Linked DNA regions of Homo sapiens: region 2 is linked to region 1. Evidence: fine-mapped expression QTL. A gene starts in region 1. The other region holds a variant in brackets. All regions are shown on one strand. Distances are between the middles of the regions. Region 1 holds the start of KISS1R (KISS1 receptor). Region 2 overlaps R3HDM4 (R3H domain containing 4).

Region 1 (5,361 bases):
CTTGAGGTCAGGAGTTTGAGACCAGCCTGGCCAACATGGCAAAACCCTATCTCTACTAAAACTACAAAAATTAGCCGGGCGTGGTGGTATGCACCCATAGTCCCAGCTACATGGGAGGCTGAGGCACAAGAATCGCTTGAACATGGGAGGCAAAAGTTGCAGGGAGCCGTCCACTTCACTCCAGCCTGGGCCACAGAGTAAGACTACTCTGTCTCAAAAAAAAAAAAAAAAAAAAAAAAAATAGCCAGGCACAGTGGCTCACGCCTGTAATCCCAGCACTCTGGGAGGCCGAGGCGGGTGGATCATGAGGTCAGGAGATTGTGACCATCCTGGCTAACACGGTGAAACCCCATCTCTACCAAAAATACAAAAAATTAGCCGGGCATGGTGGCAGGCGCCTGTAGTTCCTGCTACTCAGGAGGCTGAGGCAGGAGAATGGAGTGAACCCAGGAGGCAGAGCTTGCAGTGAGCCGAGATTGTGCCATTGCACTCCAGCCTGGGCGACAGAGCGAGATGCTGTCTCAAAAAAAAAAAGCAAGAAAGAAAGAAAAAGAAAGAAAGAGTAAGGAGGAAAAAGAAAAGGATGAGAAACTGTGGATGGACTCAAAAAAGCGTGCACTGTGAGATTCCTGTAGATAAATGTGCAAAGAGGTGAAAAAGGACAATGGAGAGATGTATCAGGAGTGACTGGCAGGGGAGCTGGGCATCGGGAATGAGTGGTTTCCCCATCCATCAGGCACAGGGTAAGGGTAGATGCTCAAAGAATGGACCTGAACATTTATTCGTGAGAGAGGGAGGCAACTCCAGAGAACTTCCTGGGCCTTCCTCCCATTCTGGGTTCCAGGGCTTCCCTTCAGGGGCCTGGGCCTGTCCTGTCTGTACCTTCTTCTTCTTCTTCTTCTTCTTTTTTTTTTTTGAGAGAGTCTCGCTCTGTCACCCAGCCTACAGTGATGCAATCTCAGGTCATTGCAACCTCCACCTCCTGGGCTCAAGTGATTCTCCTGCCTCAGCCTCCCAAGTAGCTGGGATTACAGGCACCCTCCACCAAGCCCGGGTAATTTCTGTATTTTTAGTAGAGACCAGGTTTCACCACGTTGGCCAGGCTGGTCTGGAACTCCTGACCTCAAGTGATCCACCTGCCTCGGCCTCCCAATGTGCTGGGATTACAGGCATGAGCCACTGTGCCCGGCCTATTCATTTTTTTTCCTCCCTTTTTTGTCTTTTTTTATGCAAATGGAAGCACCTTTTTCTTCGCTGTGTATTACTCCATGATGACCAAATGTCTTGGACTCTGTTGCAGGATGGACTTTGGGGGAACCTCCTGGATGTCATCCTGGGGTACACTTCCAGCTGTGGGATTATGGAGTCAAGGTTGTGCTGACCAGGCTGGGTGGCTCATGCTTGTCATCCCAGCACTTTGGGAGGCTGAGGCAGGAGGACTGCTTGAGCTCAGGAGTTCAAGACAAGCCTGGGCAACCTAGTGAGATCTTGTCTCTACAAAAAAATTTAAGGGGGGAGGGGGGAGGGATAGCCTTAGGAGATATACCTAATGCTAAATGACGAGTTAATGGGTGCAGCACACCAGCATGGCACATGTATACATATGTAACTAACCTGCACATTGTGCACATGTACCCTAAAACTTAAAGTATAATAATAATAAAATAAAATAATAAATAAAATTAAAAAAAAAACTTTATTTGCAAAAAAATAAAAAATAAAAAATTTAAAAATAAATTAGCTGGACCGGGAGCAGTGGCTCACGCCTGTAATCCCAGCACGTTGGGAGGCCGAGGAGGGTGGATCACCTGAGGTCAGGAGTTCGAGACCAGCCTGGCCAACGTGGTGAAACCTGGTCTCTACTAAAAATACAAAAATTACCCGGGCATGGTGGCAGGCACCTGTAATCCCAGCTACTCGGGAGGCTGAGGCAGGAGAATTGCTTGAACCCGGGAGGCGGAGGTTGCTTTGAGCCGAGATCATGCCACTGCACTCCAGCCTAGGCAACAGAGCGACACCCTGTCTCAATAATGATAATAAAAGGCCGGGCGCGGTGGCTGACGCCTCTAATCCACCACTTTGGGAGGCCGAGGAGGGTGGATCACGAGGTCAGGAGATCAAGACCATCCTGGCTAACACGGTGAAACCCTGACTCTACTAAAAGTACAAAAAATTAGCCGGGCGAGGTGGCGGGCGCCTGTAGTCCCAGCTACTAGGGAGGCTGAGGCAGGAGAATGGCGTGAACCAGGGAGGCGGAGCTTGCAGTGAGCCGAGATGGAGCCACTGCACTCCAGCCTGGGCGACCTGAGCGAAACTCTGTCTCAAAAAAATAAATAAATACATAAATCAGTAATAATAATAATAATAATGAGGCTGTGGCGTTTGCAAGGTGCCCTCCACCTGGTTCCCGCTGCTAGTGTCCCTGCGGGTATCAGACACCCCTTGTCAGTCATGTGGGACACATTCAGTCCCAAACCACCAGATCGGGGACGTCCCTCACCTGCCCTGAACTTTCCATGGCTCTCCAGGGTCCTGGGGACAAACCCAAGCTATCCTCACTCAGGGTCTCCGCTGAGGGCTGGCCTCCCCGCCAGGCTGGGCCCACCCCCTGGAGCCCCAGCCCCTACGAGGGTCAAAGCCCTTCCCATATTCACAGGCCTTAGAGTTCGCGCCTTGGCTGGGCTCCTAGTCCGGGCTGAGCGTCTACTCGCTGGTTAAGGTCGGTCCTTCCAGGTCCACAGCGGCCTCCACGCGGCCCACCCCCTGCCTGCTCCGCCCCCTCCAGCCCCCTCCCGCGCTCTCACTCCGACCTTGCACCGGGAGGAGGGAATAGGGGGGTTGCCGCTGGGTGAATAGAGGGCGCGTGGGCAGGGGAGGGAGTGGCGAGCGGCTGCCGGAGAGGCGGGAAGGCAAGGCCAGGGGAGGGGGGCACGGGCTATAAACGCTCGGCCGCAGCGGCGCCGGCAGAGGAGCCGCCGAGCCCAGCACAGCTGCCCTCTGGACCCTGCGGACCCCAGCCGAGCCCCTTCCTGAGTTCCACAGGCGCAGCCCCCGGGCGGTCGGGCGGAGGGGTCCCCGGGGCGGTGCCAGGGCGCAATCCTGGAGGGCGGCCGGGAGGAGGAGGTGCGCGCGGCCATGCACACCGTGGCTACGTCCGGACCCAACGCGTCCTGGGGGGCACCGGCCAACGCCTCCGGCTGCCCGGGCTGTGGCGCCAACGCCTCGGACGGCCCAGTCCCTTCGCCGCGGGCCGTGGACGCCTGGCTCGTGCCGCTCTTCTTCGCGGCGCTGATGCTGCTGGGCCTGGTGGGGAACTCGCTGGTCATCTACGTCATCTGCCGCCACAAGCCGATGCGGACCGTGACCAACTTCTACATCGGTGAGTGCGGGCGCTGCGCCGCACCTGCTGCCGTCCCGGGGGCTCCGAGGGCCGAGCGGCCTGGGGCGCCCTCTCGCGACGCATCGGGGCCCTCTCGGACCCGGCTCTGTCCCCTGCAGGGGTCCCCCCCAACCTCGAATCTTTTCCCTGTGGTCCCTGCACCTGAGGCTAGAGGTCGCAAACTCCAGCGCGGGCGGGCCCGGGCGGGCCGGAGGGTGGGGAGTGTGGCACATGGAAACCTCGACCTGGCCACTCGCGGGGCTCGCCCCGGTGCAGCGCGGGCCAACGGCTCGGTGTCAGCTGAACAAAGGGCTGGGGGAGGGGCTGGCTTGGCCCGCGGGCCTTAGTTTGCGACCCCTGCCCCGGTGGCTCTCTGAGCCTGTTTATGCATTTGTGTCCTGGGGTCCCCTATCACACACAGCTGTGAGCCCAGTCGGTGGCTGCTGGGCCGGCACCATTGTCTCCAGTTTGCAGTTGTGGAAACTGAGGCTCAGAGGGTCAGGGGCCTGCTTAGGCTCCCCCAGCCCGGACAGGGCCCAGCAGAACCGATTTCTGCCGGAATGGCCAGGAAATCCGAGCCGGAGGCGTAATGTTTGAGATGTAAGGGGGAATTACTAGAAGGCGCCCCAACTTCTCCGCCCGAGGAGGCCAGGGGCGCTGGGGGAGGGGGGGGCCTCCCTGAGCCATCCTGCTGGTCACTCGGACCAAGGTGGGGGCCAGGGGTCAGGGCCAGGAGCGCTGGGCGGTTCCCGCGGCCAGTGGCGCCCACGCCCAGCGCCCGCGCATCCCCACCGCAGCCAACCTGGCGGCCACGGACGTGACCTTCCTCCTGTGCTGCGTCCCCTTCACGGCCCTGCTGTACCCGCTGCCCGGCTGGGTGCTGGGCGACTTCATGTGCAAGTTCGTCAACTACATCCAGCAGGTGCGCTCCGGAGCAGGAGGGGAGAGGGCGCACTTGGGGACGGGCGGGGGTGCGCTCCGCAGTGGGAGGGGAGGGGACGCACTTGGGGACAGGCGGGAGTGCGCTCCGCAGTGGGAGGGGAGGGGATCGTACGTGGGGACGGGGAGGGGGGGTGCGCTGCGGAGCAGGAGGGGAGGGAGCGCACGTGGGGACGGAGGGAGATGCACTCAGAAGCTGGAGGGGAGGGGGCGCATGGTGGGGCGGGGCAGGGGTGCACTCTGGAGCAGGAGGGGAGGAGGCGCACGTGGGGACGAGGAGAGGGGATGAGCTCCGGAGCGGGGGGCGGGCGCATGTGGGGAGGGGGAGCCCACGTGGGAAGGGAGGACGGACCTTGGGCGGGGCGCGAGGCAACGCATAGGAGAACCAGGGGCTGGGGTGCCCAGCTTGCGGGAAGGGGCTGGGCGGTGGTGCAGCCTAGAACTGGAGTGGGGGGCGGGAATGGGGGAGGGATGCAGACGGGGACCCGGGTCACTGGTGAGGAAGGGCTACTGAGGCCCTGAGGCTTCTTGCCCCGCCTGTCCCTCCATCCCACGCAGCCCCCCTGTCTCAGACTCGGGGTATCAGCCGCCCCCCAAGGGCTCCCTCACTTCCCCAATCCTCCTGCCCTCCTCTCCCAGTCTCCCCACCTTCTGTCCCCTCAACCCGCACTGGACACTCCTCCCAGGACACTTCCCGTGTATGTGCCTGAGTGTTCGCACACGTAGGGGGATCAGCAGGGCGGGCGGACAGGGCAGGCTCCCAACCGCGCAGGTGGCCACACGCCCGGCTGGCGGCTCCCGCAGGTCTCGGTGCAGGCCACGTGTGCCACTCTGACCGCCATGAGTGTGGACCGCTGGTACGTGACGGTGTTCCCGTTGCGCGCCCTGCACCGCCGCACGCCCCGCCTGGCGCTGGCTGTCAGCCTCAGCATCTGGGTAGGTGAGTACAGCTCAGGGGCCTCACGGGAGAAGGCGGACACGTCCTAGTGCCCTGGGCGCCCGGAGCCACCTGCCGCCTCGGTCCAGCATCTGGAAAATGGGCG
Region 2 (5,336 bases), 20 kb before region 1:
CAGGCTCAAGCGATTCTCCTGCCTCAGCCTCCCGAGTAGCTGGGACTACAGGCGCGCACCACCATGCCCAACAAATTCTTGTATTTTTAGTAGAGACGGAGTTTCACCATGTTGGCCAGGATGGTCTCAGTCTCTTGACCTGGTGATCTGCCTGCCTCAGCCTCCCAAAGTGCTGGGATTACAGGCGTGAGCCACCGCGCCCAGCCTGTTTTTTCAAAATTTTAATAGCGATGGGGTCTCACTATGTTGCCCAGGCTGATTTCAAACTCCAGGCCTCAAGCCCTCCTTCCACCCCGGCCTCCCAAAGTGCTGGGATTATAGGCGTGAGCCACCGCGGCCTCACTGCATGATTTTTGCAAGAATTCTGCAAATATAAAACTGTTCTAAAATTACAGGTTAACAATGGCCCAAATATCAGAGTGTTTTTTCTGGATCAGGGTTCAGTTCTCCAAGAGGGCCACGCAGTGACCTTACAGAAAATCCCCATTCCCAGGCAGCAGGTAGGGATTTAACGTTCTTAGCGGCCCGGGTGTGGTGGCACACACCTGTAATCCCAGTACTTTGGGAGGCCAAGGTCTGAGGACAGCTTGAGTTTGAGACCAGCCTGGGAAACATAGCCAGACCCCGTCTCTACAAAAAAAAATTAAAAATTAGCAGGGTTGGGGAGGGAGGGGCGCTGGGCAAGGTGGTTCAGGCCTGTAATCCCTGAACTTTGGGAGGCTGAGGCACGCAGATCACCTGAGAACAGGAGTTCGAGACTAGCCTGGCCAACATGTTGAAACCACATCTCTACTAAAAATACAAAAATATTAGCTGGGCATGGTGACACATGCCTGTAGTCCTAGCTACTCTAGAGGTTGAGGCAGGAGAATCACTTGAACCCAAGAGGTGGAGGTTGCAGTGAGCTGAGATCGCGCCACTGCACTCCAGCCTGGGGGACAGAGCAAGACTCTGTCTCAAAATAAATAAATAAATAAATAAAATAGCTGGGTGGGGTGATGCACACCTGTAGGCCCAGTTACTCAGGAGGCAAAAGTGGGAGGATCACTTCAGTCTGGGAGGTCAAGGCTGCAGTGAGCTGGGATTGTACCTCTGCACTCCAGCCAGGGCAACAGAGCCAGACCCTGTCTAAAAAAAAAAAAAAAAAAAAAAGAGAGGTTGAATTCCTAACTCCCACTACCTCAGAATGTGACCTTATTTAGAAACAGGGTCTTTGCAGAGGTAATCAGGTTAAAAGGAGGTGATTAGCATGGGCCTAACCTAATGACGGGCATCATAGAGATGGATATTTGGGCACAGACACGTGAGGAGAGGACGATGTCAAGACAAGACATAACACACAGGGAAAACGGCCACTTGGAGATGAGACCACAGCAATGTGGCCACAAGCCATGGACACACGAAGTCCCCAGAAACCGGGAAAGGCAGGAAGGCTCCTCCCCTAGAGACGCTGGAGGGAGCACTGCCCTGCAGACACCATGACCTCATTCTTCTACCTCCAGCATTGTGAGAGGATAGATTTCCCTTTTGCTTCTCTTTGACCTAGGGTCTTCCTCCATACCCAGGCTGAAGTGCAGTGGCACGGTCTCAGCTCACTGCAGGCTCAAGTGATCCTCCCACCTCAGCCTCCCAAGTAGCTGGGACTACAGGCGCACACCACACCCTGCTAATTTTTGTGTGTGTGACAGAGTTTTGCTCTTGTTGCCCAGGCTGGAGTGCAAAGGTGCGATCTCAGCTCACTGCAGCCTCTACCACCTGGGTTCAAGCAATTCTCCTGCCTCAGCCTCCTGAGTAGCTGGCATTACAGGCATGCACCACCACACTCGGTTAATTTTGTATTTTTAGTAGAGATGGGGTTTCTCCATGTTGGTCAGGCTGGTCTTGAACTCCTGACCTTGTGATCCACCCGCTTTGGCATCCCCAAAGTGCTGGGATTACAGGTGTGAGCAGCCACCATGCCCAGCCAACCCTGCTAATTTCTCTCATGTTTTGTAGAGACAAGGTCTTGCTATGTTGCCCTGGTTGGTTTCAAACTCCTGGGCTCAAGCGATCCTCCTGCCTTGGCCTCCCAAGGTGCTGGGATCACAGGCATGAGCTACTGCACTGGCCTTCTGTCGTTTCAAGCCCCCTGTGTGAGACCCTCCATTACAGGGGCCCCAAGGCACTCGTACAAGCCACTCACTCAAGGTCTACAGGGGCCCCAAGGCACTCCTACAAGCTCCTCACCCA[AG/A]GTCACACGGCAGGCATGTGGCAGAGCCAGGGTTTGAATCCAGGCAACCAAGGGCAGAGGAGCCAGGGGGGCACCTGCAGCCCTTGGTGGCCAGGACCTACTAAGCCCCCGGCCCTGCCCCGAAGAAAAACACACATAGCCCGAGGCCAGAGCACCAGAAATTTATTAAATTCCCCACTTTCCCCCAAAACACAATTACCCACACGCAGCAAGGGGGTGCGGAGGCCCCCCAGCCTGGCTCCTGCAGCCTGGGCCAGGAGGACCAGCATGGGGACACAGGAGCTATCAGGCAGGAGTCAGGCTGGGGGACGAGGGGACACGGGATGGGGTGACAGACAAGGTAGTGCAAGGGCAGAGGCTTCTGGCTGGAAGTCCTGGACCCCCAGCATAAAGGAGGGGAGGAAAGGAAGGGGGCTCATATAAAGCAGGAGACCCTGAGCCCCGACACAGGTGGCGTGGGGGAGGACACGCAGAATGACGAGGATAAAACCGGCTCTTAGGACCGTGGCTTCTGTCCTGGGTCTCAGGGCACACGCGCGCACACATATACAACACAAGATGCTTCTGGCATGAGGGGCAGGGTCCCAGAGACCCCACCCTCATTCAAGCTAAAAACTGGGAGGGGCTGAGCAGGGGCTGGGACCAAGACCCATGTTTTACCAGTGGGGCGAGTTTTTTTGGTTTTTCTCTCCAAAAGGGAAATTTAAAAATCTACAACAAATCACACCAAATTCATTAAAAGTGATAAAAACCCAGCCTCCCCCTCCTCACTTGAGCTTCAGACCGGGCCAGAAAAGCTCAACGATGAAGAAACAGGAACATGCCCAGGTCAGGTCTCCCCACCCAAACACAAGTCCCGGAGTGGGAAGCTTGGAGCTGGGATGGCATGGGCAGCCCCAGCCGCCAGCGTCTGTTGACTGCCAAGAGCTGCGTGAGGAGGGGGCAGAGTGAGAGAGACCACCCCAAGCGAAAAAGGTTTCCGAGGACAAATTCTAAAAATATGAAAGATATTTTAGCCGAAGGTATCGGAGGGCTTGATGGCTGGGCGAGGTGGCAGCGGGGTCTCCGCGGGGCCGCCATCAGCTGTGCTGCTCCAGGTAGGCGGACAGGAGCAGCCCCGGCGGCAGGAAATCCAGGTGCCGATTACTGACCTTCATCTGCCGCTTCCCCTCCAGGTCAGCACCTGCAGACGGGACCAGCGGGGCAAGAACGGGAGGAATTTGGGAGCCGCGGCAGGTAGAGGTGCCTCGGACCTGCACCACCCTCGCTTCTTCCCAGGGAGGTCACCGCCAGCTGGTGTGTGCTGGTCACTGCGGCCTGGCTGGCCCTAAGCCCGCAGGTCCGGGAGCCTGGCTCACAAGAATACCTAAGGCTCCCTACAGGAGCACTCTCCTCGGGCCCATCTCACTCCCCGCTGGCACTCATTCCACTGTGCGGATGGGGACCCTGAAACGCACTGGGCCTGAGGCCGCATGGCCACTCACACGCCTGCCTGGCGGAGTGTCCGGCCTCCCCTCAGGCTCCCTGCCCTGCAGAGGTGGCTCTGAGGCACCCAGGTCCTGAGTGGTCCAGCTCCCACCGGCCTCCCCTTCCCCATCTCCCCCTCACTGCAGAAAAATGAATGACCTGGCCAGGCGCAGTGGCTCATGCCTGTAATCCCAGCACTCTGGGAGGCCAAGGCAGGAGGATCATCTGAGGTCAGGAGGTCGAGACCAGCCTGACCAACATGGTGAAACCCTGTCTCTAGGGCTGGGCGCGGTGGCTTAAGCCTGTAATGCCAGCACTTTGGGAGGCTGAGGCAAGCGGATCACGAGGTCAGGTTGAGACCATCCTGGCTAACACAGTGAAACCCTGTCTCTACTAAAAAAAAAAATATATATATATATATATACAAAAAATTAGCAGGGCGTGGTGGCGGGCACCTGTAGTCCCAGCTACTCGGGAGGCTGAGGCAGGAGAATGGCGTGAACCCGGGAGGTGGAGCTTGCAGTGAGCTGAGATCGCGCCACTGCACTCCAGCATGGGTGACAGAGCGAGACTTGGTCTCAAAAAAAAAAAAAAAAAAGAAACCCGTCTCTACTAAAAATACAAAATTAGCCGGGCGTGCTGGCCGGCACCTGGGATCCCAGCTACTCGGGAGGCTGAGGCAGGAGAATCGCTTGAACCCGGAGGTGGAGGTTGCAGTGAGTAAAGATTACGCCACTGCACTCCAGCCTGGGTGGCAGAATGAGACTGTCTCAAAAAAACCAAACCTAACCAACCAAAACAAAAAAAAAGAGCCACGTCCCATGTGAGCTCCGCGCCTCAGCAGTCCCCTCTGCCTGGGACCCCCCCGTCCTCTACTCCCCATCTTGCTGGGACCCCTCCTCTTCCGTGTCAGGACCACAGCTCCACACCCACCAAGCTCCAAGCCCCGCACCCCCAGCCAAGGCCGGATGTTCTGAGCAGAGGCAGGCATGGGGGCTGCGTCTCCCACAGAGGGAACAGAGGGAGGCATCGTCCGGTTGCCATGGAAACTGTCACCTCGGCAACTCCAGGCGGGGCGGCAGAGACAGGTGTGAGAGGCTCAGGACCAGATGGGGTGCCTGGGGCCGGCGGCGCCTGCACAGACGTTCACTACGGGGGTGAGTTCTGAGACTGCGCCCCGTTGGAAAAGTGGAGCGCAGGGGCCAGTAGGGGGTCTCGCCTGAGGTCCCACGTGTGGTATGTGGGAGGCCTTAGAGTTAAATGCAAACCTTCCAGACACTGCGTCCCCCCATCTTATCTCTGGCTCTGGGAGGTCCCTCAAATCCAGGCTTCATCACCCCCACCCCGGGCCCCGAAGATGCAGATGGAGGAGTGTCTGTGTCCAGCAGCCTGGTTGTGTCTGCGGTCACCCTGCGTGGGGCCGCATATGCAGGGAGCTTCTGGTGAATTCAAGGCAGGGTCCCACTGCCACCCCTGAGTTCGTAGCGTCCCCACTCCAGCCCCCTTCCCCACCTCCCCACCAAGCCCCACTCTGAGGAACCAGGCCCCTGGGACCCTGGCCACTTTCCCAGGTTGAGCTGGCCAACTTGGGGTCTTGGGGGCCACCGGCACTTACTGGCCGAGATGAGGTCCATGTACT

What was found. PIP is the estimated chance that this variant, and not a neighbour inherited with it, causes the effect.
Region 2: its variant is the best candidate, but not a certain one, in a credible set for the expression of KISS1R in whole blood (INTERVAL, PIP 0.71).

The regions. Positions count from the first base shown.
Region 1 is chr19:914,368-919,728 of GRCh38, forward strand. KISS1R (KISS1 receptor) reads left to right here and starts at 2,966. Exons shown (of 5, transcript NM_032551.5): 1 at 2,966-3,379; 2 at 4,177-4,301; 3 at 5,123-5,258. The coding sequence starts at 3,136. RefSeq lists silencers at 2,707-2,846, 2,857-2,946, 3,347-3,546 and an enhancer at 4,540-5,361.
Region 2 is chr19:894,128-899,463 of GRCh38, forward strand. R3HDM4 (R3H domain containing 4) reads right to left here. Exons shown (of 8, transcript NM_138774.4): 7 at 5,313-5,336; 8 at 2,376-3,413. The coding sequence ends at 3,310. Among named protein-coding and RNA genes, the nearest start is that of RNU6-9, 3.3 kb to the left of the region's middle. RefSeq lists a silencer at 4,649-4,849. The variant AG/A (reference allele first, on the strand shown) is at 2,230.